7 separate regions of the Homo sapiens genome follow, and all the other regions are reported to be linked to region 7. Evidence: microRNA targets listed by miRTarBase, many of them from high-throughput screens and not tested one by one. Region 7 holds a microRNA gene; each other region holds the end of a gene's coding sequence. Distances are between the middles of the regions.

The links. Region 7 holds the annotated microRNA hsa-miR-4728-5p (UGGGAGGGGAGAGGCAGCAAGCA, at 2,323-2,345, shown strand). A microRNA usually pairs through its seed, bases 2 to 8, with sites in the 3' UTR of a target mRNA and lowers its output. Matches are read on the target gene's strand: a 7mer-m8 pairs with bases 2 to 8, a 7mer-A1 pairs with bases 2 to 7 and ends in A, and an 8mer does both.
Region 1: the mRNA of ZNF681 is a reported target of hsa-miR-4728-5p. Seed matches in the 3' UTR shown: 7mer-A1 at 2,312-2,318, 7mer-A1 at 2,146-2,152 and 7mer-A1 at 1,368-1,374.
Region 2: the mRNA of TIAL1 is a reported target of hsa-miR-4728-5p. Seed matches in the 3' UTR shown: 7mer-m8 at 1,113-1,119.
Region 3: the mRNA of THRA is a reported target of hsa-miR-4728-5p. Seed matches in the 3' UTR shown: 7mer-m8 at 1,916-1,922, 7mer-A1 at 1,861-1,867, 7mer-m8 at 1,166-1,172, 7mer-m8 at 1,124-1,130, 8mer at 720-727 and 7mer-A1 at 179-185.
Region 4: miRTarBase lists COX6B1 as a target of hsa-miR-4728-5p. The part of its 3' UTR that is shown has no 7-base or 8-base seed match.
Region 5: the mRNA of HMGXB4 is a reported target of hsa-miR-4728-5p. Seed matches in the 3' UTR shown: 7mer-m8 at 2,319-2,325.
Region 6: the mRNA of UNK is a reported target of hsa-miR-4728-5p. Seed matches in the 3' UTR shown: 7mer-m8 at 1,111-1,117 and 7mer-m8 at 1,220-1,226.

What each region holds. Positions count from the first base shown.
Region 1 is chr19:23,740,104-23,744,103 of GRCh38, forward strand. It overlaps ZNF681 (zinc finger protein 681), which reads right to left. Exons shown (of 4, transcript NM_138286.3): 4 at 1-4,000. The coding sequence ends at 3,509. Among named protein-coding and RNA genes, the nearest start is that of ZNF681, 17 kb to the right of the region's middle.
Region 2 is chr10:119,572,050-119,576,343 of GRCh38, reverse strand. It overlaps TIAL1 (TIA1 cytotoxic granule associated RNA binding protein like 1), which reads left to right. Exons shown (of 12, transcript NM_003252.4): 12 at 553-2,879. The coding sequence ends at 679. Among named protein-coding and RNA genes, the nearest start is that of TIAL1, 23 kb to the left of the region's middle.
Region 3 is chr17:40,088,564-40,092,857 of GRCh38, reverse strand. THRA (thyroid hormone receptor alpha) reads right to left here. Exons shown (of 9, transcript NM_199334.5): 9 at 1-3,652. The coding sequence ends at 3,402. It overlaps NR1D1 (nuclear receptor subfamily 1 group D member 1), which reads left to right. Exons shown (of 8, transcript NM_021724.5): 8 at 1-65. Among named protein-coding and RNA genes, the nearest start is that of NR1D1, 9.9 kb to the left of the region's middle. RefSeq lists enhancers at 1,016-1,642, 1,643-2,268.
Region 4 is chr19:35,658,301-35,662,594 of GRCh38, reverse strand. COX6B1 (cytochrome c oxidase subunit 6B1) reads right to left here. Exons shown (of 4, transcript NM_001863.5): 4 at 3,813-4,001. The coding sequence ends at 3,948. Among named protein-coding and RNA genes, the nearest start is that of UPK1A, 6.1 kb to the left of the region's middle.
Region 5 is chr22:35,292,823-35,297,116 of GRCh38, reverse strand. It overlaps HMGXB4 (HMG-box containing 4), which reads right to left. Exons shown (of 11, transcript NM_001003681.3): 10 at 4,003-4,125; 11 at 1,310-3,510. The coding sequence ends at 3,466. Among named protein-coding and RNA genes, the nearest start is that of TOM1, 4.9 kb to the left of the region's middle.
Region 6 is chr17:75,824,103-75,828,102 of GRCh38, forward strand. It overlaps UNK (unk zinc finger), which reads left to right. Exons shown (of 16, transcript NM_001080419.3): 16 at 160-1,697. The coding sequence ends at 315. It overlaps UNC13D (unc-13 homolog D), which reads right to left. Exons shown (of 32, transcript NM_199242.3): 32 at 3,123-3,984. The coding sequence ends at 3,863. Among named protein-coding and RNA genes, the nearest start is that of UNC13D, 18 kb to the right of the region's middle.
Region 7 is chr17:39,724,174-39,728,467 of GRCh38, forward strand. MIR4728 (microRNA 4728) reads left to right here and starts at 2,322; the gene lies at 2,322-2,388. It overlaps ERBB2 (erb-b2 receptor tyrosine kinase 2), which reads left to right. Exons shown (of 27, transcript NM_004448.4): 20 at 553-738; 21 at 876-1,031; 22 at 1,154-1,229; 23 at 1,534-1,680; 24 at 2,389-2,486; 25 at 2,642-2,830; 26 at 3,122-3,374; 27 at 3,516-4,294. The coding sequence ends at 3,871. RefSeq lists an enhancer at 2,130-3,102.

The sequences.
Region 1 (4,000 bases), not on the chromosome of region 7:
GAGAAAAACAACGCTAAATGATTTAATCCTTTCATCTGTGGACACTGTATGCTTTTTGTTTTAATTTAACTGATCAGAAAATTATATTGATATGCAAAATCTCCAGTTAAAACCAATCTTGCAGTGCATTAAAAATACCGATTTCTCATCAAAACCTACAATATACCATGTGAAATGACATGGTGTGAAGAGAACAGTGAGAAAACTGTAGCCACAGCACAGCAAAAAGGAGGGCTGTGATGCATACACAGCTGAAATACACATAATAAGACAAACAAAACTAAGACAATTAGGAAATAAAAGAAGCACAATTTTTTAATTCAGCAAAACTGAGCTTTGCAGCCTGAAAATAAATGTCCTCTCCACATAAAAAATCAATGTTATTTCTCACAATTGATATGTTCCATCTCTGTCTTGAAGTTACAAACTAACTCCAACAGGAATATTTATGGCTTATTATAAAGCATCTGTGACACAGAAAGCACTGTCATGTTTGTTTGCTATATTTATATATAAAAACATCCTCATGATTTAGGAAGCCCCCCTAGTACTCACCTAAATAAATGGGCTCAATCAATATTTACTTATTTTCATTATAAAAACTGAAAGGAACAAAAACTAAAAAAAGTAGGCTTATACAGCGTTCTCCAATTAAAAGAACAAAATAAAATATTCTAACAACATAAAATATAACAATACACTAATTTTGAAATTAAATCTAAATTTTTTGCACTAATTTTATAAAAATTATTTTTATAATCTCTGACCAGCTCACATAGCATCTTATATAAAATAAGAGAAAAAAATGTAAGACACAAGAAAATTATGGGTCTAGCCTAAGAATCAGGCAAGTAAAAACAAAAATTTGCATAGGGAGATTCTGAATTATAAGCCATACAATTTTACAGTAATCAATTCAATACAAAGCAGAGAGTATGGATTTGTTTTCAGCATTTTTAAGTTTTTTTAGTTTTGCAGTCATCATCTAATTAAAATAATTTGATTTGTTTCAATATTGCTCTTCTGAAACTAGGTAGAAACTCATACTCGCAAAGAAGGCATTTATTTACTCCATAATTTTTTTAAACCCAAGCTTTATCTTTAAAGTAATATATGTATATATTTAACTCTGTGTAAATCAAAACTAATAGTCTGTATGTGCTTGCAGGCAGAGAGGCAACATGTTTGAAGAAAAATATATAACAATTTTTTAATGTTAATTCAGGTCTCAGAAATGTATGCATTTTGTTTATATTGTTTTCTTATGACCATAAAAGAGACCCTGTAGCCAACAACAATTTAATGTACATTTGAAAACAACTAAAAGTGGCTGGGTGTGGTGGCTCCCACCTGTAATCCCAGCACTTTGGGAGGCCGAGGGGGCTAATCATGGGGTCAGGAGTTCAAGACAAACCTGGCCAACGTAGTGAAACTGTTTCTACTAAAAATACAAAAATTAGCTGAGTGTGGTGGCATGCGCCTGTAGTCCCAACTACTCAGGAGGCTGAGGCGGAAGAATCACTTGAACCCAGTAGGCGGAGGTTGCAGTGAGCTGAGACCACGCCAATGCACCCAGGCGTGCACAGCCTGGGTGACATAGTGAGACTCGTCTCAAAAAAAAACCGAAAAGTGCAGAATTAGTTTATAATACAAACAAATACAAACAATAAATGCTGCAGGTAATGAATATTTCATTTACCCATATGTAATTATTACATATTATATACCTGTATCAAAATATGCCATATATGCCATATTTACACATACTATGTACCCACAAAAATTAAGAAAAATAAGTTTAAATAAGAAAAAATGAGTAATAATTCAACCTACAGGAATAATATTCTCTGACTTATTTGCAATTTAAAGCCACTGGCAAAACAGATTACTAGAAATGTTAGTCCATTATCTTATTAAATAGTGTATAGTTACCATCATTTACCTATACCCTTGAGTAAGATGGGATAAGTTAAATTTAATGGCATAATAATGCTTCATTGAATGCACGATGGTCTTAACATGTTTTTTAAAAAGCCTGATTAATAAGTTCACACATTATCTAAAAATTTTAAAATGTACTACATTTTATTACATAAAAGTACAATTGGCCAGGCATGGTGACTCGCGCCTGTAATCCCAGCACTTTGGGAGGCCGAGGTGGGTGGATCACCCGAGGTCGGGAGTTTGAGACCAGCCTGACCAACATAGAGAAACCCCATCTCTATTAAAAATACAAAATTAGCCGGGCATGGTGGCACATGCCTGTAATCCCAGCTACTCGGGAGGCTGAGGCAGGAGAATCCCTTGAACCTGGGAGGTGGAGGTTTTGGTGAGCCAAGATCACACCATTGCACTCCAGCCTGGGCAACAAGAGCAAAACTCTGTCTCAAAAAAAAAAAAAGTACAATTAGTAAAATGATATACCAGAAAATTTTTTTTCTCAATATAACACAGGATATTTATCTGAACTCCTACCTCATGCATCAGTCAATATTATAAATTAACCAGAAAGAGCCTCTCCACTTACATTTTCATCTTGCATCTTACATTTTAATGTCCTTAACTCTTTCACTAAAAAAGGTCGTAAATAATGCACACCTAATAACAAAGAATCTCTCATCTTTGATGCAGCAACAATTAAGTCACATGCTTTCACATGTGAATACAATAGGAATGAAGAGCATAACTTGAGTTAAATGACATTATTCACTTTTCATAAAACCTAATTTTTTTCAAAGGATAGTTTGAATGTAGTTACAACTCTGCAAAAATTTTCTACTTCTTATAATGTTATATACAAATAATTCATTTACCAACTTTAGTTTTAGATTCTTTTCTATACTCAGCAATCTGATTTAGTGTAATGCCTGAAGTGTCAGTGCCTTAACTATTTCTACTGTGAATTATCTGATATTTACATAGAATTTTGGATTAAATATTTTTTCATATTTACTGCATCTGCAAAAATAGATTTTAGTATGAACCCTCTAGTGTTTTCTAAGCTGTCGTTTTTGAAAAAATGTTTTCCCAAATTTATTACATTTGCAGGGTTTTTCTCCAATATAAATTTCCTTATGTTGCACAAAGTTTAAGCAACTGCTCCATGGTTTTCCTCTAGCACAAAATGTGTACAATGAGATCTGTGATACAAGTAAAGGTACCACAACCCTCCTTATGTTCATAATGTGTGTCTTCAAAATGAATACTCTTCACTTTAGAGGCTTATATTTTCTGAAAGATTTTTGACAGTAATTGCATGTATAATGCTTTTATTAAGTATGAAATCTCTGATGTTGAGTAAGATGTGAACAGATATTAATGGCTTTTTCACATTCTGTATATTTGAAATTTTTTTCTAGTACAAATGCTTTCCTGTGCAATAAGGTGTGAGCATTGGTTAAAAGTTTTGCCACATTCTTCACACTTGTAGGTTTTTTTTTAGTATGAATTATCTTATGCACAATCAAGTGTGACAACTTTTAAAGGTTTTGTTACATTCTTCACATTTCTAAGATTTCTCACCAGCATAATTTCTTTTATGTTTAGAAAACTTTGAAGTGTTTTCAAAATCACTGTTACATCTTTTAGGTTTGTAGAGTTTCTCACCAGTATGAATTTTCTTATGTCCAGTAAGGTTTGAGGACTGGTTAAAAGCTTTGCCACATTTTTCACATTGGTAGGGTTTCTCTCCAGTATGAATTCTCTTATGTCTAGTAAGGTGTGAGGACTGGTTAAAGGCTTTACCACATTCTTCACATTGGTAGGGTTTCTCTCCAGTATGAATTACCTTATGTGTAGCAAGATGTGAGGAATGGTTAAAGGCTTTGCCACATTCTTCACATGTGTAGGGTTTCTCTCCAGTATGAATTTTCTTATGTTCAGTAAGTTTTGAGGATCGATAGAAAGCTTTGCCACATTCTTCACATTTGTAGGATTTCTCTCCAGTATGAATTCTCTTATGTGTAGTAAGGATTGAGGACTGGTTAAAAGCTTTGCCACA
Region 2 (4,294 bases), not on the chromosome of region 7:
ACACTTTTATTTATTTTTGCATGTAAAAGATCTTTGTCCAGATATATTCAAAAGTTTGATGGTTTTATGCCTATGTGGTATGTGTGAGAAATCTGAGGTTTGTGTGATACAAAGTAACTGGCCTTTTTTTTTTTTTTTTTTCTTTTGTTGATAGAGTGGTTTCCTCCTTTGTAATTCCCCTGCCCAGGGCCAGCCCATAGCTTTATTTTCAGATTTCTTCCTTTGAGACTGTTTCCAACATGAACTTGTTTTTAAAATTTCTTATGTAATAGATGATGTGTTGAATCATTCACAATTTTTAAAAAATTAGTTTGCAGATACTCCTCAGACATCAGTGTGTTAAGTTGTGGTTATCTTAAAAATATCAAAGACTAATACTGGAATATGTATTCTACACATATATCATTTATTTCTTTGATCTTTCTATTTGTTGTAGGTGTGTTGATTTCTGGTTTTCTATTCTGTGATTAGGCTCTGCTTGATTTTTGTGTAAATACATATGTGATTTTTTTTTTCTTGTGTTTGCTGAAGATTTTTTCTTTTTCTTCCAAGTCAATCACCTTCTGCTGCTTGGATGGGTGGATTTGGTGCTCAGCCTCCCCAAGGACAAGCTCCTCCCCCTGTAATACCTCCTCCTAACCAAGCCGGATATGGTATGGCAAGTTACCAAACACAGTGAGCCGGGACTCTAAAAAAAAATTGTAATTCATGATAGGCTTCGATTTCCTGTGACACTCTGAAGACATGAAAGTAGACATCGGAAAATGAAAATATTTATTTTAAAAATTGAAATGTTTGGAACCTTTAGCACAGATTTGCTTTGGTGAAGGACACGTGTCTTCTAGTTCTGCCTTTTTAAGTTTTTGTTCATGATGGATATGAACATGATTTTTCTTTATGTACAAAAACTAAAATAAAGTCAATAAAGACAATTCTGACTACAAATTTTGATATAATAGGAAAAATGGCTAATACATTTTGATTCTTAGATACTATTCCATTTTTATCTTGCTGTTCAGTATTTTAACTCACTGTGTTTTTAAAAGAGCAAAAAAGGGAGGATCGTGAAAACCTGGGAATCACATATAAGTTCATCCTGAATCCTGATACTCCCCTCCCCTTCCCTGAGGTGGACCACATTTGAAGTCAGCAGAGAAAAAGTGTGATATTCAGAAGAAATGCGTGATTTTGGAGTCGCTTTGGAGGAAATATTTTCTTTCTCTATGCCTAAAGAAACTGAAGCCAGACTGAAGTTTTGCACCCTAAAAAAGGAACAGCATTGTTTGAGTTACTTGAGCAAATGTTGGTGGTCCACGTTAAGACATATTTTTAAAACTTCCAAAAGTGTCGATTATTAAAATTGTAGTATTTTACATTTCATTTTGGGGGGAAATCCAAGTATGGTGTTTGTATTGAAGTCAGACAGTCATACTTGTGCTTTTACATGAAGTTTAAATGATACATATTGTAAATATTCAATAACTACAGTGTTTAAAAAGCATGCTTCAACATAGAAGTAGCAGCAATGTAATTATTTGAAGTAACACTTAACACACTCCGCTGCATTGAATGCAGTGGATTGATCAGAATGTTAAGACTGACATTTCCAAGGTTGGCTACTATGTAAAATTAAAATTACACAAATTGTGCAGAAAAAGCCTTAATTTTAATTTCATACAATCTTTGATGCATTAGTATGTTCTAAAATGTCATTGGGAATTAGTTTTTTGTTTTTGTTTTTTTTTTTTTTTTTTTTTGCTTTACATTACTTGGTATGTAAATACCTTGATTAAAACCTTGTAAACCAATTTCAAGGTTACTATAAGTTGTATAGTACAAGTGTTTTTTAAAAATCTTGGGGTGTTTTTAAAAATTAAGATATATTTTGCCCAAGAATTTTTTTAACAAGATTGCTAAAAACATCTTATTTAGACACTTCAATGTACCAATTTATAATTGGATATTCAGTTTAAATAGTACACAGAGTTGTGGCTTTTATTTTCAATTAATTTTTTTCCTTGTGGGCAGTGTGCATGGTATAATAAGCCTGAGCAGAGGCTTAAGTTGTATGTGTGCAGAGTTTGTAAAGGAATCAATTGGAAGATGCAGAAGACCGAGGTTTGCTTTCAAGGTATTTTTCAGGCTGTGTGGGTAAAATTTGCCTCAAATTTCTATCAAACAGGAATGTAAAATAGATAAAATCCTATGTATTTGAATTGTCAGAGCTAGGGAGTGCAAATGTTTTGGCAATGTATTCAAAATGCTGGCCTGGGCACCAAAGAGAAAATAGCCTTTTACAGTTACATAGTAAGATGCGATTAGTACCCACAAATTACTGTTTTCTAAACATTTGAAGTTTTACGATTAGCTTTAAAATAATGATTTTATAAATTGGTGGTCACAATAATTTTGGTATTACTTTCCTCCTTTTCCCACTTAGCAATATAGCCAAATGTATTCAACATAAAAATTCATAGGGTCTGAAATTCATAGCTGGGCCAAATTTTTTATGGCACCTTAGTTTTACCATAATGGTCATCTATTACACTCTTCTGTTATAAAATATACCCTTATTTCTTTTGTTTATAGTATCTTTGAGGAATGTTTTTGGAAAAGTTAATTTATATTTTATAGGGAGAACACTCAATAAATTATGTTAACTGTGCCCCCGAGTTAAAAATTTTATGAGTATATGTGAAACTTGAACAACTGAAGACTTTTTTTAATTGATAAAAATGCTTAGTATGCCTGTTTTGGTCTGCCAGTAAATTAAGTAGCTTATTGAGATAACTAACAGCTAAATATAGCTGTAGTGTTTCCTGACTGTATATTCTATGATTTAATAAAATTATCCAGACTAGTTATATTGCCACAGTAAACATGTGACTGAAGTGTCCTTCATCTTAATCTGAAAGAGGGCAAAATTTCATGATCAGTTAATGGAAGTTATTTCATATTAAGTGGTTTTTTTTTTTTTTTTTTTTTAGATGGAGTCTTGCTCTGTCGCCAGGCTGGAGTACATGTAGTGATGAGAACTTGGCTCACCGCAACCTCTGCTTCCCAGATTCAAGCGATTCTCCTGCCTCAGCCTCCTGAGTAGCTGGGATTACAGTCACGTGCCACCATGCCCAGCTAATTTTTTTGTGTTTTTAGTAGAGATGGGGGTTTCACCATGTTGGCCAGGATGGTCTCGATCTCCTCACCTCGTGATCCGCCCGCCTCAGTCTCCCAAAGTGCTGGGACTACAAGCGTGAGCCACGGTGTCTGGCTTTTTTTTTTTTTTTTTTTTGAGACGGAGTCTTGCCCTGTCGCCAGGCTGGAGTGCAGTGGTGCAATCTCGGCTCACCGCAACCTCCGCCTCCTGGGTTCAAGCTATTCTCCTGCCTCAGCCTCCCGAGTAGCTGGACTACAGATGCATGCCACCATGTCTAGTAAATTTTTGTATTTTTAGTAGAGACAGGGTTTCACCATGTTGGCCAGGATGGTCTCAATCTCCTGACCTCGTGATCCACCCACCTCGGCCTCCCAAGGTGCTGGGATTACAGGCGTGAGCCACTGCACCTGGCCATTAAGTGGTTTTTAAAATACAAAGCTACTTATCCAAATGAAATGTACCATTTAAAAACTACAACTGGGCCGGGCGCAGTGGCTCAGCCTGACCAACATGATGAAACCCTGTCTCCACTAAAAATACAAAATTAAGCGTGGTGGCCCGTGCCTGTAGTCTCAACTACTCAGGAGGCTGAGGCAGGAGAATCTCTTGAACCCAGGAGGCGGAGGTTGCCCTGAGCCAAGATTGTGCTATTGCACTCCACCCTGGGAAATAGAGCAAGACTCCGTCTCAAAAAAAAAAAAAGTGCAACTGTTGCCGGGCATGGTGGTTCACACCTGTAATCCCAGCACTTTGGGAAGCTGAGGCGGGTAGTGGATCACCTAAGGTCAGGAGTTTGAGACCAGCCCAGCCAACATGGTGAAACCCCATCTCTACTAAAAATAACAAAAAAATTAGCTGGGCGTGCTGGTGGGCGCTGGTAGTCCCAGTGACTTGGGAGGCTGAGGCAGGAGAATTGAACCTGGGAGGTGGAGGTTGCAGTGAGCTGAAAATGCGCCACTGCACTCCAGCCTGGGCGACAGAGCGAGACTCCATCTCAAAAAATAAATGAATTAATTAAAAGTATGGCTGTTGAGCTAACAGATGATTTTATAACATGACCCAATGCTATCTTGATCCAACTTAAGCCTAAGAATCGTTGCTCCCCACCCCGTTCATCAAAAACATCAGCAGAGACTTTTT
Region 3 (4,294 bases), 360 kb from region 7:
CACAACCCTCCCCTGGCCCTCTGATTTGTTCTGTTCCTGTCTCAAATCCAATAGTTCACAGCTGAGCTGGCTTCTGTGGTGTGTGCTCGTTTGGGGGGTGGGGTGGAAATACTGCCAAGGCTGGGGGGGGCCACCTCTCCATCTGGTCAGTTTGTGGGGTGGGTACTCTGCCAGCAGATGGGAGGATATAGGGAAACAGCACACAAGTCTAAGGGGGGTGCCCAAGGGGGTTATTTTCATCATATATTTATTACATAAATATATAGTAAAATAGACGAGCAACAATTACCATAAAAATATCTTTCTTTAAAATCCTGACCCAAAACACAACGGGGTGAAAAATCGCACATAACAGACATACTGATTGTCAACGTGGGGCAGGAGTAGGAGCCCCTCAAGTCACCCCTGCCGGTCCCACCCCTCCCTGGGGAAGAGACCTACCTCCTTCCCTGTTTCTGGCCACAACCCCCCTCCCCCCAGCCCAGCACCAGCTTCTCATACATTCAGTAGCGCCTCTGGGCAGTGTCCCCCTCCCCCCCGCCCAGGAGTTCCCAGGGCAGGAGTTACTGTCCTCCTTATGGACGGTCTCTCTCTCACAACGCCCTGCCCTCTCCCAGCCCTGCAGACCCGCCACCAGGAGAAGGGGTAGGGGCTCCTCCCCCACCCTCCCCAAGTCTGAGCAGGGAGGAGGCTGGATGAGGTATGTGTGTTATGAGTGATGGGAGGGGCAATACTGAGATGGAGAGGCGGGTGGTGGGGGCGGGGTAGTGGTCATGGCTCTGGCAACCCCTTGTCCTGGCCTGGCCCCCTCGTCCTATTCCCAGCAACCCGTCCTCCCACCGATACTGCACCTGCTGCTCCACCCTGCCTGCCCTAGTGCCCCGGGCCAATACTGGGGGAGGCATGCTGAGCACCCACATCAAGGCCATCCCCCTCATTAGCACCAATGGCCCCCAGGAGAGGGCCCTGTCCCCCACTTCCACAGCAGGGACTGGGACAGCTGCCGCTCTAGAGCAGGTGCGTGGCACTCCTGAGTCGCCCTGGCTCCTCCCCTACCATGTGTACTCACTCACACATTCACGCAGAGGAACGCACACATACACCCCACATCACCGAGGGGGAAGGGAGGGGTCCGGGGAGGATGGGATCACAGCTCATATGATTGGGGAGGGTGGGGGAGTCCCAAGTGCCTATAAGAGGCTAAGGCTCTTCAAGGCCTTTTCTCTGCCGTGTCCATGGCTGAGAATGGGGATGGAGGGGTTGGGGTGGGGATGGAGGGATGGGGAAGACAGCAGACAGGTCAGGAATTCCACTGGGCCCCCAGGCGTGGTAGGAAGGTACAAGAGGGCCTACCCATGGGACTGGAGTAATACAGGATTCAGTACTCCAGGAGAGAGAGAGAGGATAGAGACAAAGACAGCGCGGGCAGCCCGAGGCCCCAGCAGGGTGGGACAGGCACATGCACAGGTGACAGCGGGTGCTCCTCCAGGCCCTCCACCCCTGTTGGAACACCTGAACGATTGGGGAAGGACAGTGCCCTGACGGGCAGCATAGCATTGCCTTCCCATGTCCGTGTGTGCATGTCCGTGTGTGTGTGTGTGTGTGTGTGTGTGTGTGTGTGTGTGTAGGGGGCTGTGGCAGGCTGAGGGTCAGGGTGGGGTGGCAGGTTCCCCACTGCTTAAGACATTTTTGCCCCAATAGTGCAAAGCGCAGGAAGCCCTGGCACCCCTCCCCCCACCCCCTGCCCCAATCCCCATGGCTTCCGGGGGCATCTGTGTCCACCCATCCATCCCTGCCGACATGCAGCCCTGAGCCCAGCACCCTCTGGTCTGCTCTGTCCCACCCCACCTCCTGCTCCCATGGGAGGACCACCTCCTCTCTCCCTCTCTCCCCTGAGGAGTGGGCGGCAGCCACAGGGAGGGGGAGGAGGACAGCTCACCCAAGTGCAGACCAACAGAGCACCCTCACCAGGAGGGCGAGAGGGGCTCAAGCCAAAGTCCCTGAATTAGAGAAAAGAAGAGGGGAAGGGGTCCCGGGGCAGAGGGGCAGCTGGCCAAAAGAGCTTTAAAGAAAAAGGAGCACCGACCACCCCTCCCCTGGGGCCCCAACTAAGTGTCACTTATCTAAACACCCCCATTCTGGTACCTGCCCGCCCAGAGTTAGTGCAGTGAGTAGGAGCTGGGGAGGAGGGCAGAGGTTAGAGAGAGCCCAGAAGACAGATGGGAAACAGGGAAACAGAGTGCTAAAGGGGTGGAGGGTTCTGGGAGACGCTCACGCACAGCCCTCCTACCCCCGACCCAACCAATGCAGCAGCATCCGGTTTCTAGCTAATACTGCAGGATATAAGGAGGGTAGGAGTTGGAGCCACAGTTTTTTCCTGGGTGGGTGCCAAGGTGTGGAAGGAGGAGGTGGATGGGGAGAGGCCCCTAGGGCTGGGCACTTAAAGGGGAGCTGTGTGGGCAGCAGGGCAGGCTGGTGAGGGGCCAGCTGGCATCCAGCATGAGAGGTAGATGGAACTCAGCGGGCACGAGTGGCAGAAAGCAGAGGACATACTAGGGTTGGGGGGTGCCAAAGGGGCACAGAGGGCGGGGTATGGCAAGGGGGGTGGCCAGGACCCTGTTGTGTTAACTCACAGCTCTGATCGGCAGCCCTACCCTTGGGGCTCTGGTGTGGGGGCATTTCTCTCTGATGTGGGGGAAGAAGGGGCAGCTCGCAAAGTGCATGGGGTGGTAAAGGGGGGGTCCTCCCCTCTGGTCAGCCTCAGTTAATAACTTAATATCATCTCTCTCTATCGCTCGCTCTCTCTTTTTTGTATTTTTCTCTCTGTCTAGTTTTTCTTCATTTGTCTTCTCCCCTTGCTTGGTTTCCAAAGTGCAGTTAGAATGACTATAAATTTTAACCTCCAGAGGAGGAGCCAAGCCAAGCCGTTCTTTGCACCCAGGCATCTGGGGAAGTAGAGAGGCCCTCAGCCTGGAGGGGAGACCTAGGCCAAGGAACTGGGTGGGGGCTCTCTCTCATGTGTGTGTAGGGGGTGAGTTGAGGGCATCTTCCCCCAGCCCACATTCCTCCTTCCCCTACGGTCAAGGTGGCTTGTCCCTTCTCAATCCTCCCGCCCTTCCCCTACCTTCTGAGAGGATGGGGTCCTGGGAACTGCAGGACACAGCTCCCCCAGCCTCCCACACTGTCCTTTCCATAGCAAGTTCAGTTGTTTGCCCTGTCCCAGGGCTGGAGGTCTGAGGAGGGACCTGGGCAGTGCGGGTGTGTGTGTGGGAGCTGAATCTATCCAAGGACGAGAGGAAGGAGAGAAGGGGTGTGGGGGGGTCTCCCTCAGCCCCCAGCTCTGCCCCTTCTCTCCAGGCTCCTCCCCACCAGCTCCGCACACCCTCTGGCCGCCTGAGGCTTTAGACTTCCTGATCCTCAAAGACCTCGAGGAAGAGTGGGGGGAAGAGTTCGGTGGGGCACTCGACTTTCATGTGGAGGAAGCGGCTGGCGTGGCAGGCCCCGATCATGCGGAGGTCAGTCACCTTCATCAGCAGCTTGGGCCAGAAGTGCGGAATGTTGTGTTTGCGGTGGTTGACGTAGTGCTCGAACGCCAGCAGGTACGCCTCCTGACTCTTCTCGATCTTGTCCACACACAGCAGGCCCGAGCGGTCTGTGAGGGAAGAGGGGCGTGAGGGGCGAGGGGCTGGCCGAAGGCCTGGAGATGGGGAGGGTGAGGTGTGGGGACGTGGGAAGAAAGGACTAGAGGGGAGATAGAGGCAGAGAGGCTGGGGGAGGGGAGGGGAGAAGCTCCCCCTGAGAGACGTGGACAGGAGAAGCACAGGGAGAGGGAGGCAGCTGGGAAGTGGAGAGGGGCAGGGGGGTACTGGGGGGAGGGGGCAATGCAAGGAGGACAGAGGGACAGGCCGGGGGCTGGGGGAGAGAGAGGAGCCTTGGAGTGGGGAGGACTGAGGTTGGTGGTCAGAGAGGCGGGGTGCAGATGGGGTTAGGGAGGGGACTGAGGGGTAAGAGATGGGACTGGGAGACAGAGGAGGGATGAGGGGATGGAAGGTGGCTGAGAACAAAGTGGGGAGTGGGGAACAAAGGGGAATGTGAGTGACAGAGGGACAGGGCAGCGAGAAGGAAGGAGACAAAGACAGGAAAAGGCACAGAGCAGGGATGGGGAGGCAAGGGATGGGCCTGGGGAACGAGTGAGAAGTGTGTGACAGAGCAAGGAACAGGGGATAGGGGATGGCCCAGGTGACAGAGAGGTAGCCCAGAAGAAGATTCAGGAGGGAGTTGAGCAACAGGCCCA
Region 4 (4,294 bases), not on the chromosome of region 7:
GCACTCCAGGCTGGGTGACAGAGTGAGGTCTTGTGTCAAAAAAAAAATTAAAAAAAAAAAAATAATAAAATGAGAAAGATTAGAACATTTGGAAAAAATGCAGGCTGGCGTGCGGTGGCTCAGGCCTGTAATCCCAGCACTTTGGGAGGCTAAGGCGGGCAGATCACCTGAGCTCAGGAGTTGAGACCAGCCTGGGCAACATGGTGAAACCCCGTCTCTATCAAAAACAAACAAACAAACAAAAAACTAGCTGAGTATGGTGGTCTATGCCTGTGGTCCTAGCTACTTGGGAGGCTGAGGTAGGAGGATGGCTTGAGTCTGGGCGGCGGAGGCTGCAGTAAACTGAGATTACGCCACTACATGCCAGCCTAGGTGACAGAGTAAGACCTTATCTCAAAAAAAAAAAAAAAGCTGAAAAGGGGAATTAAATATATATTTCCAAATCTGCCCGCATGGAAATTACATTCCAGTGGTGCAATGATGAAGGATAACATTTGGCATGTTAGCGGTAAGTGCTTAAGAAACAAGGCCAGGTGTGGTGGCTCACACCTGTAATCCCAGCACTTTGGGAAGCCGAGCTGGGTGGATCACAAAGTCAGGAGATGGAGACCATCCTGGCCAACATGGTGAAACCCCGTCTCTACTAAAAATACAAAAATTAGCTGGGCGTGGTGGCGCGTGCCTGTAATCCCAGCTACTTGGGAGGCTGAGGCAGAAGAATCGCTTGAACCAGGGAGTCTGAGGTTGCAGTGAGCTGAGATTGCGCCACTGCACTCCAGCCTGGTGACAGAGAGACTCCATCTCCAAAAACTAAAAAAATAAATAAAAATTGAAAAAAGAGAAAGAAACAAAAGGAGTGAAGGGGCACAAAGATGGAGGAGCTGAAGGTGAAGGCTGAGTGGTCAGAGAAGGCCTCGCTAAATGAAGACCTGAAGGCAGTGAGGGGTGAGCTTGTGGACAGCTGGTGGCCAAACATTCCAGGTCGAGCAAACAGCAAGTGTAAAGGATCCGGGGTTGGAGCCAGCCTGGTGTGTCGAAATACATTTGCTCACAGTTCCTGTGCACTGAAGAGGCCAGTGTGGCAGGGGCTGTGTGAGCAAAAGGGCACCATATCCAATCAGATCAATATATTTACAAATACTTCTAGATGCATGAGCTATCTCTAAAGGAATGTACAGGAAACACTGGCACTGGTGGCAAACCCTGGGCAGAATCAGGCAGCTGGACTCAAGGAGTCCAGCACCTTGACTTTTCACTGGCCGTCCTGTTTCATTTGAAATTTTCATGGTGTTGGCTGGGTGTGGTGGCTCATGCCTGTAATCCCAGCACTTTGGGAGGCCGAGGTGGATGGTTAACCTGAGGTCACGGAGTTCAAGACCAGCCTGGTCAACACGGTGAAACTACTCTCTAAATCGCTACTAAAAATACAAAAAATTAGCTGGGTGTGGTGGCAAGCGCCTGTAATCCCAGCGTTTTGGAAGGCTGAGGCAGAATTGCTTGAACCGGGAGGTGGAGGTTGCAGTGAGCAGAGATCACATCACTGCACTCCAGTCTGGACAACAGAGCAAGACTCCATTTCAAAAAAAAAATTTTTTTTTCATGGTGTTTAAGTTCTTTGCTACTTCCAACCCACGCCATAACCTCCCACGATCCCTCAAGCTCCCTGTGTGTGCACTAAGGTCCTGTTTACAGCCACTTTTTTTTTTTTTGAGACGGAGTTTCGCTCTTGTTGCCTAGGCTGGAGTACAATGGCACAATCTCGGGTCACAGCAACCTCCACCTCCTGGGTTCAAGCAATTCTCCTGCCTCAGCATCCAGAGTAGCTGGGATTACAGGCATGCACCACCACGCCTGGCTCATTTTGTATTTTTAGTAGAGACGGGGTTTCTCCATGTTGGTCAGGCTGGTCTGGAACTCCCGACCTCAGGTTATCTGCCTGCCTCGGTCTCCCAAAGTGCTGGCATTACAGGCGTGAGCCACCGCGCCCGGCCCCTACAGCCACTTTTCTTCATGAGCAGCTATTTCACAAGATCTATCTCTGGGGCCATTTTTCTCCATACAAGAATCATCCCTGCTCATGTGAATGCATCAGACAAGTTTGTAACCATTTGAAGTTTTGTTTTTGTTTTTTGGGGATGGAGTCTCGCTCTGTCGCCCAGGCTGGAGTACAGTGGTGTGATCTCAGCTCACTGCAACCTCCACCTCCCAGGTTCAAGTGATTCTCCTGCCTCAGCCTCCCCAGTAGCTGGGATTAGGGGCACGCACCACCACACCTGGCTAATTTTTGTATTTTTATAGTTTTTTTTGTATTTTTAGAAGAGATGGGGTTTTACCAGCTTGGCCAGGCTGGTCTTGAATCCCTGACCTCGTGACCCACTCGCCTGGGCCTCCCAAAGTGCTAGGGTTACAGGTGTGAGCCACCACACCCCGGCCATTTGAAAGGTTTTGAGGACACACCAATTCAGCCATAAGAGTGTTCCGGCTGGTCATGCTAGCTAGGTCCCTGTTGACGAGTCTGTTGGGGATATTCTGGGCTGTTATTGTGTGGCAATTCTTTTGGGGGCACCATGAAGAACAGCTCTCAACTTGGCCTACTTAAATGACTTCCAACTACCATCATGATCAGCATGAAAGAGCAGGTCCCAACACGGGGAGAAGTTACACATTGTGCAGGAGATTGCTTATTAGATATTAAGAACTCTTTTTTTTTTTTTTTTTTTTTTTTGGTGAGATGGAGATTTACTCTTGTTGCCCAGGCTGGAGTGCAATGGCATGATCTCGGCTCACCACATCCTCTGCCTCCCAGGTTCACGCGATTCTCCTGCCTCAGACTCCCGAGTAGCTGGGATTACAGGCATGTGCTACCATGCCTGGCTAATTCTGTACTTTTAGTAGGGACGAGGTTTCGCCATGTTGCCCAGGCTGATCTTGAACTCCTGACCTCAGGTGATCTGCCCACCTCAGCCTCCCAGAGTGCTGGGATTACAGGCATGAGCCACTGTGCCCGGCCATTAAGAACTAATTTCTTAGGTGTAAATAATTATGTTAAAAAAATAGGTATCTCCAGGCAGGAGAATAGTTTGAACCCAGAAGGCAGAGGTTGCAGAGAGCTGAGATGACACCACTGCACTCCAGCCTGGGCAACAGATTGAGACTCTGTCTCAAAAAAAAAAAAAAAAAAATTGTATCTCCAAGAGATACATATAGTTTCTTATTTCTGGATAAAATATAATCTTTATGTATTTTATATTATATTATAATCTATATAATTTGCTTTAAAATTATGTAGGGTGGTTGCACACATAGGAACTTAGGTTATTCTGTATAATCAACTATTTGACTCATTGACTGGCACAGAGAGGGTGGCCAAGGTTCAATAAAATTAAGTTAAAAAACGCTAGGCATGGTGGCTCATGCCTGTAATCCCAGCACTTTGGGAGGCCGAGGCAGGTGGATCATCTGAGGTCAGGAGTTTGAGACCAGCCTGGCCGACATGGTAAAACCCCATCTCTACTAAAAATACAAAAATTAGCCAGGTGTGGTGGGGTGTGCCTGTAGTCCCAGCTAGTCGGGAGGCTGAGGCAGGAGAATCGCTTGAACACTGGAGGTGGAGGTTGCAGTGAGCAGAGATCGTGCCATTGCACTCCAGCCTGCGTGAAGAACGAGACTCCATCATAAAAAAAAAAAAAATTAAATTAAATTAAATAAATAAAAACAAAACAGAGAAAATACTCATTCAAGCCCCTCCCTGGTCAGGGCACTGATTCCAGCCCAGCTTCTTGCCACTGCCTGGCCCGTTCACACGCATAGTCTCACTTTTCCAATGAGTTTTTATTAGCAGGTAAGTCATGATTTAGGATCCTGGGGTGGGGATCACTGGGTACCAGGTCCCCCTTCACCATCCTGGGAGAAGGATGGAGGACAGAGGAAAGGGAGATGCAGCCAGTTCAGATCTTCCCGGGAAACGTGCCTTCAGCCCGTTGCTCATCCCAGTCTGTGACCTGTGGAAAGACAGTGTTATTCCCTCCGCAGTGGGGAAACTGAACGGATGGACTTCTTATCTTCCTCACTTTGCCCACCTGTTTGTTCAACCAATATCCACAGGTACCTGCTGTGTGCCAACCTCTATTCTAGAGGCCGGGGAATCAGCAGTGACCCCAAAAGACAGAAATCACTGTTCTGAACAAGCTGACATGCTGGGAGGAGAGTAATGGGCAGGAAAACCCCAGGCCCACTGCAGAGCTGTCGATGGGGAGATGTGTCACTGTACAGAGCTCCAAGGGTGGGCCCTGCT
Region 5 (4,294 bases), not on the chromosome of region 7:
GAGCCACTGCACCTGGCCAGTATATGGATTTTATCAACATAGTAGATAGGGATGTAAATGGCAAACATTAAAGTTAGTACAAAACTGATTAAAACTGTCTTTAAAAAGTGTGCTAATAAGGAGCAAACTGATTTAGTAAAAAGTGTTTCAATTTACTTTTTAAGTGTTTTAGTAAAATTAATATCATGCCTTACTGAGGGTTAAAATGTTCAAATTTCTTAAGATTGACAGTCTGCATAAATGTAATCTATTAAATCCTTTAAGTGCTTACAGACAAAAATCAAGATACCTTGCCTTCAAAATTTAAAGACAATAGTATGACAAGAGTGAAAGCCAGCTAGATACCCGAACAATGCAAAGATCTGAGACAGCATTCCCACAATCACATTCGCTCAGGACTTGAGATAATGGAAAGCATTCTGATGAATTATAGACATGATTTAAATCTGAAAGTAGCTTGGGGTAGAAAAGAGCCTAGGGTTTGGGGTCAGCTGTTTCACTGTTCTTAATCTGCCTTTGCCATTTACTAGCAGTATAAACTTAGGAAAAGTACTTTTTCGCATCTATAAAGGGAGATAATATTCTTAAGGCTTTGGGCGGAGGATGAGTGAGACAAAGTATGCAAATCACTCTAATAGTCACTCAGTGATACGGTAGTCTCTTCCTTGCTGCCTTTCCATAAGACATTAGCCTTGTAATTAATCATATTATTTTACTATTTATGACTTTTAACACCTTGTGTTTGCACTGAAGTTTTTACCTTGAAAGGTCATATCTCCATATATTCAGTGTTCATAATGTTATTAAACATTCATGTCAGGCTGGCTGGCTGCAGGTCTACAGACAGGGAAGTGACTTTAACACTATTCTATAGATGGGACTTTGGAAGCCTATAAAGATTAAGTAACTTATCAACAGCATTACTGTAATGCTAACAGGACAGTACTGAAACATATCATTTAGCACATGATTCAGATGCAACCCTTATATAAGATTAATCAACATTTTCTTGATTTAGGCCAACACCATAATGCACATAGTTTCATTTGCCAATAAATGGAGGTGGAATTATCAGATTCACTAAATTTGCAATTTGCAAAAGAGAAAATGAGAACCTCTACAATGTAAAAGTTAATAGAAGCAGAGTAAGGAGTATATTAAGAAAATGGCTAAGATTAGAAATTTAATCTCCATTGTGGGTTGATTTTTTTCTTAAGAAAATTATGGTAGAATAGAGTGAAAAACAGGTTTTATAATTTCATAGCAACTATGATGATCATGATTAGGGAAAAGACAGCTGAGACTGGACTACAAATATTAAAAATGTGATTTTTAATAATATAAGTACAAAATTTTATTTCTTTATACAACTGTAATGGGATTTGGATCAAACCACTAGAATTTATTTAAAAAACAAAATAAAACAATGATATAAAAACTGCAAGAAGGTCTGAATCCAAAGTTTTTCCTCTAATAGTACCAAATACCACAAGGTACAGATTATTATACAAATGTGTACAAATTTTAAATACAAATACAATAGGGCTGGGTTTCAAAGGAAAACAAACAAAAAGCAGGTCCTCATCAGGATTTCATTAATGTATATAAATGACAATGCTAGGATTAATGTCTTCCTATACTATCCATGTCTTCCCCGCCCCTCCTAGATACCCTGTGTCAAACAGGAAACTTCCACAGATACAGAAGAGGCATGGTACAATGTTCTAACACATGAAATCAAGTTAAGATTTCTGTTCCTCTTGATTTTGGTTCTCAAACAATCCTGTTTCTCTGTATTCCCAATTAAATCTTAAAACTGCTCTGAGCTGAGAAAGGGATTCAGCAGCCAGACTACCTTTAAGCAACATAGCCCTGTGACAACACTGGTGGGGAGAAGGGAAGAAATTAAATAGGATGCAGATGGGCTACACTGTCCCCAAAGATTTACTTTGATGCTGTAGTGCTCTGTCAGGGCCAGGAGAAGAAAGCACAGTTAACTCAGAGCTTGGTGTTGGCAGAGAATCTCATACCAAATTTAAAAACCATCCTGAAGTGCTCAACTGTCTTCTTTCCAACTGGGAAACAAACGTCTGGTTCTCTGGAAATAAGGGCAGCTGGGGATGGTAACATTCCTCTTTATTTTACTTTCTAGACATTATTGAAGCCCATGAAGTTCTTTATAAAGAATTAGAATCCTAACACAATGATTCATTTTTGAGGTAAAATACCTTAAAATGTAGATGATTCAGAGTTTTTGGAACAGACCAGGAGGAAGGAAGGAAAGAGGGAAGGAAACAGGGAAGGAAGGAAGGAAAGAAGGGAGGGCGGAAGGGAGAAATGACAAATCTGTATCTTCCACATGCTGTTGCTGGTGGAGGCTTCTGTTATTAAATTATATATACAGAAATTTACAGGATAAATTAAAATCTAAGAGATTTTAAAGAGTTAAATACACATAATTAAAATACACATTCACACACACATAAATAAACCTACAAGAGAGTGAGTTTTGTTTTGTTTTTGCAATTCACTTACATGTGGAATGCAGAACACTGTGTATCTGCCCACCAGGGGAACTGATAAGATGAACCCAAAAATCATGCTGGGCAAAGTTTATCCATAACCACCGAGCAACTAAGCAGCACGGCTTGTGAGGACTTGGTGGCTAACTTCATGCTGCCAGTGAAAGACACCAGCACTTAATTCTGCCGACTAAAGATTCTGGGTTAGCTCAGAATGTATGGAGGTCCAACTGGTGGCATTGACAGCTTCACCCCCCAAGGTGTTTTTTGCTGCCAGGGCTCACAGAACTCCTTGGCCTCTGTTGAGGCCACCAATGGTACCAATGATTACAATAAATTTTGAGACACAGACACCTATACAGTAGGAATTGGAATGAACCCTCTACTCAATTCACCTAAGCCACTTCCATAACTATAAAGGGAACAAATTTTATCACCTCCCACCTAGGTCACTTCAAATTGAAAGGCTTTGAATTTTCAGTCAACTGGCATCTTCCCGTTATCTTTCCTATTACATTTCAGACTAAGACAGGTAAGGCAAATGGTCAGTGATGGGTCTGGAGGTCCAACTGAGCTTGGAAAATAATCACATTTTAGCTGTCCATAAAGAGATGCGCTTGGCACCCAGAACAAGCCCCCAGCCCCCAAGTTACATTGATTTTTAAGGCAGATTTATCCACCACAGGAGAAAAAAGAATCCCAAGCCTGTATTCATGCCAAAATTTCCTCTTGGCTAAACCTTTGCCATTTCATAAAATTATTAAAAGCAAAGTAGTTACAGTCTATGTATATATTGTACATTATATATATATGTATATATGTATGTATAGATATAAAAATTTAAAACCTACAGCCAGAGGCCACTGAAGGAATCTGCAACAGTCATATATACACAAACCAGCAATGGTGTAGGATAAGGTTTCTGTCCCAGGATTCTTTGCTGTCACAGTCCCGGCATGATGTAAGCAATGTTGTCTAATGTGTTTGACTGCAAAACAAAGAAAAATGTTCAACTGAAGAGTACTGTACCTTGGTTTCCTGAGAGATGTTTCTTTGTTCAAGGAGAGAGATAAGAAAAATCAAATGGAGTTAGAAAAACAGGTGAGAATGAAGACGGCATCCTGCTGTTTGTTATGCTAGGAACTTTTCTGCTGACTTCTCCCATTAATCCTCGTAAAAAAGAGGGAAACAATTCCTGTACTGTCTTTGGGTGCAGAATAGCAAACAGGAAACACAGGAATTGTAGTACCTCAAGGGCTAGAATGCTGCTTTCTTAAGTACTGTTTTGGTAAATGGCTTGTTTTCTAGTTTCAGTGAAAGTACAGCATGCATTTGATAATATAGCATCATGTTCCATGGGCCAACAGATGAAGGAAGCACTGTGTGTCACAAAGCCTTATGTGTGTCTGACAGTGCTCATTAAGGCAGGGCATCTCTGACGCCCAATGGATCTGACTCTAAAAATCCAGGGAAAACTCACCAAGACCTGTTTGGGACAGCCATTCAATTCAGGTAGTTGTGTGGTGAGACATGCCAAGGGGCCAAGGGCACAGATAATGGAATCCAGAAGCACTGACAAACTGCCAGACACAGCCACCATACCCTGAAAAGGAGAGGAGGTTGTTGCTTGAGTCACACTCCTGATGCTGTGTTCCGGCTGACTTCCTCACACAGTACTTTAAATCCTAGGCAGTTCTACTCTTATAATTTGAAACTTTACAGCAGAAATGGAAAGTTTACTTTGATAACTCTGTAAGTTGTTTAGAAAGAAA
Region 6 (4,000 bases), 36 Mb from region 7:
CCTGCTCTCTCACCTGCCAACAGGGGTCTGGGAGCACACTGTTGAGCTCGGTACCTCAGTTTTCCCATCCCAAGGGGCTGCAGTGAGGATCAAGGGAACTCCTCGCTCAACTTGGGGCCAGACCCATGGATGGTGACCACGATGCCCCTTTCCCTGCAGGCCGTGTTCCACATGCAGTCGGTGAAATGCCTTAAGTGTCAGGAACAGAAGCGGGCAGTGCTGCCGTGCCAACACGCTGCGCTGTGTGAGCTCTGCGCTGAGGGCAGCGAGTGCCCCATCTGCCAGCCTGGCCGGGCCCACACCCTCCAGTCGTGACCCTGCAGGCCTGGCCCAGCCTGGCCCAGATCTTCTCACCTAGGACTTTTTAAAGTATATATATATATATGAATATATATATATATGTGTATGTATGTATGTATATGTATATGATTATGTATATGTATACATTTCCGTATGTATGTATATGTATACATTTCCGTATGTGTGCAGGTATGCGTGGTGGTGTGGACAGTGTCTGTGTGTATATCTGTACATAGATATAGACACACACTTTAAAAGACTTACCAAGCACTTTTTAAAAGAAGAAACTATTTTGCAGTCCTCCCCTACCCACTCCCTGCCCTTCCCACTGCAGAGATGACATCCCCTCTTCTCCCACTGGCCTTTTGGCAGAGAATCTGGTTCTGTCTCTTTTTTAATGTAGGAACTAACTATTTTTAACTTCTTCCTGGGGCCTGAGCAGGGAAGGGTGGGACTGGAAGGCACTAAGGGGAAGGGAGAAGCCCTCAGGGCAGGCCCTGCTCCCCCTACCTCCTTGCCAGGGCAAGGGTGGAGTGTGGAAGACGTGGGTCCCCCAGAGCAGGCCTGGCCCCCAGCTGTGAGGGCCTCAGGGAGGCCCGAGGGGGAGTGCTGGGGGTCTCAGCTGGCTTAGCTCCTAAGTTTACCAAATGTTAATTTAGTCTTGGGGAGAACAGCAAGGGCTGGAGGCCAGTGCTGCAGGGCCAGCCCCACTCCTGACACCTGGGCCCTTGAAGCTCCTTGAGGGGCAAGGCCCAGGAGTTCCAGCCCTCAGGTTCCTGAGGGTCCACCCTCAGTCCTTCCCCCCGCCGCCCCTCCCCGGACTCCCCACAAGAGCCTCCCTGGCCCCAGGGCCGCCTACCAGGCTGGTACTCATTCTATGACCACCGCCCCCAACCAGCTGCCCCCAGCTCTCCCTGCCCCCTCCCCTCTCTGGCAGCTAGCAGGGCAATTGGCGGGGAGGAGTGCGGACTGAGGACTGAGGACCAAGGGGGCCCAGGCCCTGCCCTCCTACCCGGAGGGGCTCCGTTTGCATTCCTTGGTGCTCTCTGAGTGCAGCTGGTGTCCCGCCCTGTTCTGGGCGGACGCCTGTGTGCGTGTGTGTGTGCCTGTCCAGTGTATATTGTGTCTTAGCTTCCATTTTAAAAATTGTTCTGTACAGAGAGAGATGCAGCAGGGGCGGGAGGGCAGAGTGGGCGGAGGGGAGCAGCCGCACCCCCAGCACCGGGTGTCTGCGGTAGGAACAAGAGGGCTGAGAGGGTCTGGTCCTGGCCCAGGCTCCCCCTTGGGCTCAGCACGAAAGGGCTTTCAATGAATTAAGTGAAAACTTTTTCCTTTTTTACAAAAATGCAAAAATCAACAAAGCTCCAAACCTATTGGAAATAAAATATGAACTTGCAGTGGTAGCTTGTTTACATGGGGGTGAGGGGGAGTGGGTCCCAAAAGAGGGCCTCTGAACTATGAGGTGGGCCAGGAGCCTTGCCTCAGCCATGGAAACGGCTGCTGCCCACACCCCTGAGCTGTGGTAAGGCAGCTGGAGAGGGCTGGAAACTTCCTGGGCCCATCAGGCCCCAAGACAGTTCAAGTGCTCTCCGACCTAGGCCTAGCGGTTGATGACACAGGGACCCTTAGCCTTGGACACAGAGGCCCCCCAGGCCCTAGGACTCTTTAGGGCTGTGTGGTCAGCGGTGACTGGCAATAGGGCCCGTAACTGTTTCTCAGAGGAACAGTGTCTTCCCAACTGGGCATGGTGGCGCATGCCTGTGGTCCCAGCTACTAGGGAGGCTGAGGTGGGAGGATCACTTGAGCCCAGGAGGTCGAGGCGGCAGTGAGCCATGATTGCACAGCTGCCTCCAGCTTGGGTGACAGAGTGAGATCCCATCTCAAAAACAAAAACAGGCCGAGGCGGGCAGATCACTTGAGGTCAGGAGTTCGAGACCAGCCTGGCCAAAATGGTGAAACCCCGTCTCTACTAAAAAAAAAAAAAATACAAAAATTAGCCAGGTGTGGTGGCACATGCCTGTAGTTCCAGCTACTCAGGAGGCTGAGGCAGGAGGATCCTTTGAACCCGGGACGCAGAGGTTGCAGTGAGCTGAGATTGCCCCATTGCACTCCAGCTGGGCGACAGAGTGAGACTCCATCACAAAAACAAAAAACCCAGTGCCTTCCCATTGGGATGATTTGCTGGTAGGACCCAGAGGAAGTCCTGCCTTCTGCCTTCTTCACCCTACCCTGCCCCTGAGGGATGAGGGGCTGAGGCCTAAGAGGTACGTCCTCCCTCCCACCTCCTCAACTAGGCTGTGCGGTGGGGGGTGAGAAAACACCCTGGTGGGATCCTCTTTGCATGGTCTCGGGCCTTGGATGTCATCTCAGCTAACCTCGACTCCTGTCCTCATTTTGTGCAGACTCAGAGGTTCCGACATGGAACCAGGGTCACACAGCTAGGATGACGTGATGACCAGGCCTCAGGTTCTGACACCCCCCAGGCAGGGGAGGGACCCAGCTCCTCTACGCCCTACTGTCTCAAGAGCAGCCCCTCAGCCTCAACCTGCACCCCTGGGAGGCCCCTGCTCACTGTGCTCCCCCGAGGAACGGGTCCCTGTCCTGGGTGTCACCACAGGAACTGGTATGCCTGGTAAAGCAATTTATTCAAAGCCCACGGCCAAAAATCACCCTAGCCCTGCCTCTGCCTCAGTTATTTCCACACCTACCCCCCTGCTTTGTAGCTACCCCAAGGTGGCGGTAGCTCAAAGTCCCCTGAGGGCTGGGGAGGAAGCTACCCGGCCTGGCTCGCATTCCAGGCCCCACTGTAGGCCAAAGGCATATTTTAAGAGGACAATGGATTTGTTTTTATTAATTTTTTTGCTAAGAAAGTTTCTAGGTGGCAGGTGCTGTCCGGGGAGGGGGCGTGCGCAGCAGACACAGCAGCCAAACTGTCCTTTCTGCTTCCGTCTGTCTGTGCCAGCCCTGCCGCCTGCCAGCTCTTGCTCCCTCAGAGCCAGAAGGTTCTTGGCTCCAGGCTTCCTGGCCTGGATGCTGGCAGCCCCTGGGGAGAGGACCCAGGCCCCCTCTAGTAATGGCCACCACCCTCCCCCCAGGGCAGCTGGAGCCTCATCTTTGGCAGGGTCCCCTCTCCCTTTTCCAGGAGACTCTGTGCCTGTAGCCCTGGTCCCAGTGAACCTGGCCCCCACCCCAGTGGCTGGAACAGGAAGGCCAGGAGGCAGATGGGCCAGGGCCAGGAGACAGATGGCCCAATCCCCTGCCCACCACAGCAGCTTTTCTGAGAGGCGGGCAGGGGCAGGGTTTGCTCCCCCTGGTGCTGGGATGTGGTAGAGACATTGCAGCCAGGGCTGGAGGCAGGGAGGCGGGAGTAGAGATGTCGCTGCTGAGCCCCCATCACCATGGGAGGCAGGGGAGGTCTGCACTCTGGGCACTCCGCATGCTGGGGCTCCCCAAGTGTTAGGCCAGGCTGGAGGGCCGCGATGTGGCGGGGAAGCCCCAGACCCTACAGGAAAGCCCTTGCAAGTCCCCACCGGGGACCCAGCCCCACCGCAAACCTCTACGGCTACGGTGCCGGCCGCAAGGCATGCTGGGAGGCCTGCTTGGCCCGGTGCCGCCGCAGCCTCACAAAGACCTGGGCTTCTCGGTCACCCTTCCGGCCCTCCAGCAGCTGCAGGATTGGGTCCCCTGCGGAGAGAGGGGT
Region 7 (4,294 bases):
AGTGGCGTTATCTCGGCTCACTGCAACCTCCACCTCCTGGACTCAAGCGATTTTCATGCCTCAGGCTCCTGAGTAGCTGGGATTACAAGCGCCCGCTAATTTTTTTTTTTTTTTTGAGACAGAGTCTCGCTCTGTCACCCAGGCTAGAGTGAAATGGTGCGGTCTCAGCTCAGCCTCCCAGGTTAAAGCGATTCTTCTCCCTCAGTCTCCTGAGTAGCTGGGATTACAGGCGCGAGCCACCACGCCCGGCTAATTTTTGTATTTTTAGTAGAGATGGGATTTCACCATGTTGGCCAGGTTGGTGTCAAACTCCTGACCTCATGATCCGCCCGCCTCGGCCTCCCAAAGTGCTGGGATTACAGGTGTGAGCCACCGTGCCCGGCCTAATCTTTGTATTTTTAGTAGAGACAGGGTTTCACCATGTTGTCCAGGCTGGTACTTTGAGCCTTCACAGGCTGTGGGCCATGGCTGTGGTTTGTGATGGTTGGGAGGCTGTGTGGTGTTTGGGGGTGTGTGGTCTCCCATACCCTCTCAGCGTACCCTTGTCCCCAGGAAGCATACGTGATGGCTGGTGTGGGCTCCCCATATGTCTCCCGCCTTCTGGGCATCTGCCTGACATCCACGGTGCAGCTGGTGACACAGCTTATGCCCTATGGCTGCCTCTTAGACCATGTCCGGGAAAACCGCGGACGCCTGGGCTCCCAGGACCTGCTGAACTGGTGTATGCAGATTGCCAAGGTATGCACCTGGGCTCTTTGCAGGTCTCTCCGGAGCAAACCCCTATGTCCACAAGGGGCTAGGATGGGGACTCTTGCTGGGCATGTGGCCAGGCCCAGGCCCTCCCAGAAGGTCTACATGGGTGCTTCCCATTCCAGGGGATGAGCTACCTGGAGGATGTGCGGCTCGTACACAGGGACTTGGCCGCTCGGAACGTGCTGGTCAAGAGTCCCAACCATGTCAAAATTACAGACTTCGGGCTGGCTCGGCTGCTGGACATTGACGAGACAGAGTACCATGCAGATGGGGGCAAGGTTAGGTGAAGGACCAAGGAGCAGAGGAGGCTGGGTGGAGTGGTGTCTAGCCCATGGGAGAACTCTGAGTGGCCACCTCCCCACAACACACAGTTGGAGGACTTCCTCTTCTGCCCTCCCAGGTGCCCATCAAGTGGATGGCGCTGGAGTCCATTCTCCGCCGGCGGTTCACCCACCAGAGTGATGTGTGGAGTTATGGTGTGTGATGGGGGGTGTTGGGAGGGGTGGGTGAGGAGCCATGGCTGGAGGGAGGATGAGAGCTGGGATGGGGAGAATTACGGGGCCACCTCAGCATGTGAAGGGAGGGAAGGGGCTGCCTGTGCCCCACCTTGCAGGGTCTGTGCACTTCCCAGGATTAGGGAAAGACCGGGTAGGGTCTGTCTCCTGGCATCACATCTCCCCCTGCTACCTGCCATGATGCTAGACTCCTGAGCAGAACCTCTGGCTCAGTACACTAAAGCTCCCTCTGGCCCTCCCACTCCTGACCCTGTCTCTGCCTTAGGTGTGACTGTGTGGGAGCTGATGACTTTTGGGGCCAAACCTTACGATGGGATCCCAGCCCGGGAGATCCCTGACCTGCTGGAAAAGGGGGAGCGGCTGCCCCAGCCCCCCATCTGCACCATTGATGTCTACATGATCATGGTCAAATGTGCGTGGCTGAGCTGTGCTGGCTGCCTGGAGGAGGGTGGGAGGTCCTGGGTGGAGGAGCCCACAAGGGGCATGAAAGGGGACCAGGATGTATGTAGACCCAGGAGCCCTAGTATGTTAGGAGCCTCAAAACCTTCTTGTATCCCTTTTACAGTCAAAGTCCAAAGCCACTCTTGAGGAACACTCTTGTACAAAATTAAGCTGGGCACAGTGGCTCATGCCTGTAATCCCAGTACTTTTGGAGGCTGAGGTGGGAGGATCCCTTGAAGCCAGGAGTTCAAGACCAGCCTGGGCAACATAGTGAGATCCTATCTCTACAAAAAATAAAAAAATTATCTGGGTGTGGTGGTGTGTGCCAGTAGTCCCAGCTACTCAGGAGAGGCTGAGGCAGGAAGATCACTTGAGCCTAGTTTAAGGTTGCAGTAAGCTATGATTGCACCACTGAAATCCAGCCTGGGTGACAGAGCGAAACCTCATCTCAAAAAAATAAAAAAGCAAACAAAAAGAAAAAAAAAATTAAAAGGGAAACTAGAAGAGATGCCAAAGGTTCTGGCTGAAGACCCCAGAGTCTGGTGCTACTTCTCTACCACCTGAGGGCTTTGGGCTGTCCCTTGGGACTGTCTAGACCAGACTGGAGGGGGAGTGGGAGGGGAGAGGCAGCAAGCACACAGGGCCTGGGACTAGCATGCTGACCTCCCTCCTGCCCCAGGTTGGATGATTGACTCTGAATGTCGGCCAAGATTCCGGGAGTTGGTGTCTGAATTCTCCCGCATGGCCAGGGACCCCCAGCGCTTTGTGGTCATCCAGGTACTGGGCCTCTGTGCCCCATCCCTGCCTGTGGCTAAGAGCACCCTCCTGCAGAGGGTGGGAAGGAGAGATGAGTCCAGTATGCCAGGCCCCTCACGGAAGGCTGCATGCTGGGCTGGGGAGGGGCCACCATCCTGCCTCTCCTTCCTCCACAGAATGAGGACTTGGGCCCAGCCAGTCCCTTGGACAGCACCTTCTACCGCTCACTGCTGGAGGACGATGACATGGGGGACCTGGTGGATGCTGAGGAGTATCTGGTACCCCAGCAGGGCTTCTTCTGTCCAGACCCTGCCCCGGGCGCTGGGGGCATGGTCCACCACAGGCACCGCAGCTCATCTACCAGGGTCAGTGCCCTCGGTCACACTGTGTGGCTGTCTGCTTACCTCCCCCAACCCCGGTGGACTAGGGTCCCTTTCTCTGATGTTCCCTCAACTGTCACCTCTCAAGGAAACCCCATTATCCCTACAAAAAATTCTTACTGCCTTCCAACCCCTGTGACCCCATTCTCTCCACGGTGACTGTGTCATACCCCAAAGGTGACCTCTGTTTTTCTCCTGTGACCCTGTCACCTTCCATGGAGTCCCCATCCCAGATCCGTGAGTGACCCCCATCATGACTTTCTTTCTTGTCCCCAGAGTGGCGGTGGGGACCTGACACTAGGGCTGGAGCCCTCTGAAGAGGAGGCCCCCAGGTCTCCACTGGCACCCTCCGAAGGGGCTGGCTCCGATGTATTTGATGGTGACCTGGGAATGGGGGCAGCCAAGGGGCTGCAAAGCCTCCCCACACATGACCCCAGCCCTCTACAGCGGTACAGTGAGGACCCCACAGTACCCCTGCCCTCTGAGACTGATGGCTACGTTGCCCCCCTGACCTGCAGCCCCCAGCCTGGTATGGAGTCCAGTCTAAGCAGAGAGACTGATGGGCAGGGGAGGTGGGACCTTCAGCCCAGGGTCCACTGTGGGGGCAGAGGGAGTGGCAGAGACACCGGGGTTCCTTCCCCTAATGGGTCACCTTCTCTTGACCTTTCAGAATATGTGAACCAGCCAGATGTTCGGCCCCAGCCCCCTTCGCCCCGAGAGGGCCCTCTGCCTGCTGCCCGACCTGCTGGTGCCACTCTGGAAAGGCCCAAGACTCTCTCCCCAGGGAAGAATGGGGTCGTCAAAGACGTTTTTGCCTTTGGGGGTGCCGTGGAGAACCCCGAGTACTTGACACCCCAGGGAGGAGCTGCCCCTCAGCCCCACCCTCCTCCTGCCTTCAGCCCAGCCTTCGACAACCTCTATTACTGGGACCAGGACCCACCAGAGCGGGGGGCTCCACCCAGCACCTTCAAAGGGACACCTACGGCAGAGAACCCAGAGTACCTGGGTCTGGACGTGCCAGTGTGAACCAGAAGGCCAAGTCCGCAGAAGCCCTGATGTGTCCTCAGGGAGCAGGGAAGGCCTGACTTCTGCTGGCATCAAGAGGTGGGAGGGCCCTCCGACCACTTCCAGGGGAACCTGCCATGCCAGGAACCTGTCCTAAGGAACCTTCCTTCCTGCTTGAGTTCCCAGATGGCTGGAAGGGGTCCAGCCTCGTTGGAAGAGGAACAGCACTGGGGAGTCTTTGTGGATTCTGAGGCCCTGCCCAATGAGACTCTAGGGTCCAGTGGATGCCACAGCCCAGCTTGGCCCTTTCCTTCCAGATCCTGGGTACTGAAAGCCTTAGGGAAGCTGGCCTGAGAGGGGAAGCGGCCCTAAGGGAGTGTCTAAGAACAAAAGCGACCCATTCAGAGACTGTCCCTGAAACCTAGTACTGCCCCCCATGAGGAA